Regions from separate parts of the Homo sapiens genome. Here region 1 is linked to region 2. The links come from fine-mapping of genetic effects on gene expression. A gene starts in region 2. The other region holds a variant in brackets. All regions are shown on one strand. Distances are from middle to middle.

The links.
Region 1: its variant is fine-mapped to the expression of GLB1L2 in tibial artery (GTEx, PIP above 0.99). The same link has a PIP of 0.9 or more in atrial appendage and prefrontal cortex.

The regions. Positions count from the first base shown.
Region 1 is chr11:134,375,326-134,378,336 of GRCh38, forward strand. It overlaps GLB1L2 (galactosidase beta 1 like 2), which reads left to right. Exons shown (of 19, transcript NM_001370461.1): 19 at 1-999. LOC124902798 (a long non-coding RNA gene) reads left to right here and starts at 1,471. Exons shown (of 2, transcript XR_007062961.1): 1 at 1,471-1,929; 2 at 2,739-3,011. RefSeq lists an enhancer at 1,136-2,035. The variant C/T (reference allele first, on the strand shown) is at 1,681.
Region 2 is chr11:134,330,397-134,333,119 of GRCh38, forward strand. It overlaps GLB1L2 (galactosidase beta 1 like 2), which reads left to right and starts at 1,592. Exons shown (of 19, transcript NM_001370461.1): 1 at 1,592-1,751. The coding sequence starts at 1,666. RefSeq lists a silencer at 1,442-1,741.

The DNA of each region.
Region 1 (3,011 bases), 45 kb after region 2:
GAGCAGCTAATCAGATCGCCCAGCCTTTGGCCCTCAGAAAAAGTGCTGAAACGTGCCCTTGCACTGGACGTCACAGCCCTGCGAGCATCTGCTGGACTCAGGCGTGCTCTTTGCTGGTTCCTGGGAGGCTTGGCCACATCCCTCATGGCCCCATTTTATCCCCGAAATCCTGGGTGTGTCACCAGTGTAGAGGGTGGGGAAGGGGTGTCTCACCTGAGCTGACTTTGTTCTTCCTTCACAACCTTCTGAGCCTTCTTTGGGATTCTGGAAGGAACTCGGCGTGAGAAACATGTGACTTCCCCTTTCCCTTCCCACTCGCTGCTTCCCACAGGGTGACAGGCTGGGCTGGAGAAACAGAAATCCTCACCCTGCGTCTTCCCAAGTTAGCAGGTGTCTCTGGTGTTCAGTGAGGAGGACATGTGAGTCCTGGCAGAAGCCATGGCCCATGTCTGCACATCCAGGGAGGAGGACAGAAGGCCCAGCTCACATGTGAGTCCTGGCAGAAGCCATGGCCCATGTCTGCACATCCAGGGAGGAGGACAGAAGGCCCAGCTCACATGTGAGTCCTGGCAGAAGCCATGGCCCATGTCTGCACATCCAGGGAGGAGGACAGAAGGCCCAGCTCACATGTGAGTCCTGGCAGAAGCCATGGCCCATGTCTGCACATCCAGGGAGGAGGACAGAAGGCCCAGCTCACATGTGAGTCCTGGCAGAAGCCATGGCCCATGTCTGCACATCCAGGGAGGAGGACAGAAGGCCCAGCTCACATGTGAGTCCTGGCAGAAGCCATGGCCCATGTCTGCACATCCAGGGAGGAGGACAGAAGGCCCAGCTCAGTGGCCCCCGCCCCCCACCCCCCACGCCCGAACAGCAGGGGCAGAGCAGCCCTCCTTCGAAGTGTGTCCAAGTCCGCATTTGAGCCTTGTTCTGGGGCCCAGCCCAACACCTGGCTTGGGCTCACTGTCCTGAGTTGCAGTAAAGCTATAACCTTGAATCACACCCCCTCTGGTGATAGTCTCTGGTCATGTGTGCCACTCTTGCCAGAAGGGAAGGCTGTCTGAGAGCTTGGTTTTCTTGGTCAGGTTCCCATTGGGCCCCACTTGCCGCCTGGGGGTCCAGATGGGGACCGTCCCTGGGGTGGGTGGGCCATGATCCTGGCCTCATATTCCCCTCCTGACCCCGACTTCCCTTCAAATGTCTCTGGATTGGAAGTGCCCTGGAGAGGACAGTTCAAATGCAAATTCATTCTCATGCTGGTGGGCGGGGGTAAGAATCTGCCAGGCAGTCAAGGGCGCTCCATATGAGTTAACTGCGGGGTTGAGTTTTGCTTCACAAACTACATCTGGCATCTACTGCCAAAACCAAATTATCTCCAGTAAGAGTCAGAAAGTCAAGTAGCACACACATCCCCGGCACAGCGAGAGCTCTGGGAGCCCCGTGAAGGTGGGCTGGGGGATGGTGAGCCGTGGAGCTCACTGAGGCCAGCAGGCTTGCTGCCCGTGTGTGGCTGCCCAGGGGGAGTGCAGGGGACATTCGTGGTGTGCAGCCCAGCAGCTGAGCCGGGTCAAGGGCTTATTAAATGGAGCTTATTAAAGGAAAGCTTGTGGACAGTGGCTTGGGAACAACATGGGGCAGAGTCCCTGGTTTTGCCCAAACTCACCAGTTCTTCTGGAACTGCCT[C/T]GGAACGACAAGCATGGGGCTAAGATGTGGATGAGACTCGGGCTACTTGGGTGTGGCCTGAGCCACCTGCAGGGTCTTCTGCCCCGCTTTACCTGAGTGTGTGCTTCTGCAGAGCTGTGTATGAGCTGGTTCCGTCAGAAAGTGATGGAATGGAAGGGAACCTTCCTGCAAATCCTCCTGTAAGGTGGAGAAGCCCCTTGGATCACACTTCCACGCAGACCTGAGCAGGACACACTGTGGTTTCCTAAGGTGAGGTCTTCCTACACCAGCTTCTTATTCTCACCCTTATTTTCTGCCAGTTAATTGCTCAGCTTCTCTATCAAAGTACCTCTTGGCAGAGCTTATTCTCCAGCGTTGACTAAAGATGTTTCCATTATCTTCCACACGGTATGGCCTCATCTAGGTCTCTTTGGAGAATCCCTCTTCATATCCAGCCTCTGAATGCTGGGGGTCTCTGGCCCACTCCTTGGGCTGTTTCTTTCCTCTGTCCACACTCACTGCATAGGGTCTCACCCGTGCACCTGTGGTTTGTAAACAGGTTGGACACCCGCGCCCGCCGATGCTGGGCTGCACCTGAGCTCCAGGTGTGTGGGGGCGCATTTTCTTCTGCATGTGTCTAACAGGCACCTGACACAGAGCTCCATTTCCCCACATTACCCCTCCTGCACGCAGCCCTGTATCTGGAAATGGCAGTGCTGTTCTGTGTCTCGGGCTATTTTGGACCCCTCTCTTTATCTCCCACATCCAATCCAGCAGCAGATCCTCCTGGCTCTGCCTCCTAAACTTGGCCAAAATTTGACTGCTTCTCTCTGCCCCAACCCCATGCCCCCACTCAGCCCACTGCATCTTGGCCTGGATGATTCCAGGAGCCACGTCTCCACCTGCCCTTGCCCTCTCCATTTATCCTCCGTGGAGGAGCAGGGCAGTTCTTCTTAGAGATGGATAGATTATGTTAGTCCTCCGTACTGGACCCCCTATTGCCTTCTGGTTTCACCCGGTGCCTGGGGACTCCCTTCTCCCACGCCCACCACATCCCTCACTGCTGTTGCCCCCAGCAGCCCCCGCCCCGTCAGTTGAGCCCGATGGCCTTCCTGCTGATCTGTAAGCAGGCTGAGCAACGCTTGTTCCGCCTGGTGGAGAGTTCGTTCTTCTTGGGCCCGGGGAGCTGCATGTCAGGGTGTTGCTGCTTCGCTCAAGGGTCACTTATCACGGAGGCCTCTGTGGTCACCCTACAGAGCACTGACCCTCTCCACTGCTACCTCTGTCTCCCCGACTCACCCTCATCCTCCATACAACAGATTGCATCTGAAATAATATGCATTCGTTATTGC
Region 2 (2,723 bases):
GTTATGTATATTTTTCTCGCACAAATAAAAACGAAGGATACAAGGGTGGGCCAAGGAGTTCACGGTTTTCACAACCCATGTTAAGTTTTTGCTAACGTTTGAAGAAAAATGGAGATGCTTGTATTGCTTAAACCATTTGAGAATTCCCTTATATTTGATAGATTCTGCCACTGTTCAACGTGACCAGAAGTGAGAGGATGAATGTGGGGTGCATGTCTTTCGGATGGTCCCCTGCAGGCAAAGGGGCTAGCCTTTGACAATTTCTCCACACGCTTCGGGGCTAGCTGGTATATTCCAATTAAACCAACATGTTTCCATCACAGACTTCATAGCCATCAAGCAATCATAGCCTTACCCAATGGAGAAAAGGAGCGGGCTTGGAGCGCGTCCACGGGAGTGGGCCTCCCTCTGCGCGCCTCTGGGAATGTTTGCGGTGCTTAAGTCAGACCCGGATTGCTCCAAGCCCAGCTTATCCTCCCCAGTTCTGCCAGGGTTTTTTTCCTCTTGTTTGTTCGTTTGTTTTTGCCTCTCTTTGATTTAACTTTTGCTCCTTGACTAAATATGTGCTTAACGCTAGACAAAGGACACTTCATACCCAAGTCTGTGTCTTTGTTCCAAGATCTGCAATTTCATTTGGTTCCTGTCGGCTTTACAAGTTCAAAACTATGCCCCCGTTTAGGAAATGAATTCAAAGCATGCGGCAAGGGAGACATTCGACAAACCCGGATGCTCTGGAAAACGTTGCCCTTCCTCGAGTTTCTTTCAGTAAAATCTGAATTTTGTTCCCGGGAGGAGTTGGGTTTGTGATTGCTACAGTGTAAGTTGCACCGAAATACTACATCATGTTCTTTGGGACATACATTCTGTTTCAGAATAAGAATGATATTCTTCCTTTCCTAAAATGTGAGAGTTTTATATGGACCTTTTTAAAATAAAAAATTGGAAGCCCTTGGAGTCAAGGCCAGAGTAAGACTCGCAGAAACCAAAGACAGAAAATATTTGGAACCCCCCCTCCTCAGACATGAACCACACTGAAATGTGTCCAGATACAATTCTTCAAAATCCTGGCTTTTCACAGGATGATTTGTTATTGAAAAAGTTGTTTGCTTCAGAATCTGAATTGTTTTAAAAGATTCTGTTGGTTGCCCCTGCTTTGCGGACGCCTTTTGTACGTTCTTCCTGATGTAGCGCTGCGAGGGGCGACTTTACCTCGGCGTTTGACAGGTACGCAGCATTCCCGCACCCGCCTGCGCCTCGCGAGCAGAAAGACGGCGGACTCTGCACCGCTCCACGACACTGGGGACCCGCCCCGGCCAGACCCGTCCCCTACCGAGACCTTGTCCCCGCCCCGCCCCCGGCCGGGGCCCCGCCCCGCCAGCCCCGCCCCCGCCAGCCCCCTCTCCTACCGAGACCTCGTCCCCGCCCACCAGCCCCGCCCCGCCCCCCCCCCGACAGAGGCCCCGCCCCGGCCCCGGCCAGCCCCGCCCCCGCTTGCGCGAGGCCTAGGGCTGCAGGCGCGGAGCCGCGAGCCCCAGCCAATGAGCGCCGGCGGGCCGGTTGCCCAGGCGACCAGTGCGCGGCTCCGCCCCCCGCGGCGAGGCTCCCGCGCGCGGCTGAGTGCGGACTGGAGTGGGAACCCGGGTCCCCGCGCTTAGAGAACACGCGATGACCACGTGGAGCCTCCGGCGGAGGCCGGCCCGCACGCTGGGACTCCTGCTGCTGGTCGTCTTGGGCTTCCTGGTGCTCCGCAGGTGAGAGAGAGCTTCGCGCAGCACCTGCCGGACCCCACATTCCCCAGCCCTCCGCACCTCGGGTTCTCTCCTCCCGCGACCCGCGAATCCCGAGTTCCCGGGGGGAGCAGCCCCAGCTGCTTCTTTCTGGGAGCTCCCCAATACCCCCGAGTTCCCCTGCGGCTGCAGGCACTCTACTCCTGCCGCGCGATCCAGGCCTCTGGGCGACACCCGGCGTGCCCTCGGGAGCCGGCGTCTGTGCCCCGAGCCGCCCACCCCGCCGCGCCTGTGACGCCGGGCTCTGCCCCCCGTGGACGCCCGCAGCCCTCCAGCCGTCAGAGCCCTCTCAGACGCACCCCATCGCGGCCCCGTCCCCACTGCTCCGCGGAGAGCTCCCTCTGCCCTTCCCCCAGGCCCCCCTTTTCCTCCCAAGCCTCTGGGAGGCGCCTTATTCCGCAGAGGCCGGCGCTTCAGCCTGGCAGGTATGGTCTAGCCAGCTGGCCTGGCAGGGTCGTAAGAACAGTGTCCGTGGGCCTCCAAGATCCCGGGCCATGATTTATTTGCACAGTAGGACTGATAGGTCGTCTCTCTCCACTTTCCCACCATTCACCTGTTACCAGCTCACCCTTTCCTCTCCCCCTTTTCCAAATGTTGTTTATGGCAAAGGAGTGGCTTCAGTGATACTGTGATTTACCCACAGCCTGTGAAAAAGTTTTCTGGGTGCCCTAGCCCAGCATTTTTCTAAACTGTGCTTATTTTAAGGATTCTACAGCCCTGACCCTATCTTTCAGGTCAGCACTTTCCATATTCAAAACCTCCAGTGGGAAGCCGACCGGCAGTATCGAATGAACTGAACGGTTGGAAGTGGTGGCAGGCCCTACGCCGCTCGGCTTTGTCATTTGCTTCTTTTTTACTTAGAGAAACTAAGTTCTTAGTTTCTCTGCACTTCCCCTGGGAGACAGGGAAGTTTTTGATGGAGATAAATATCTGGAA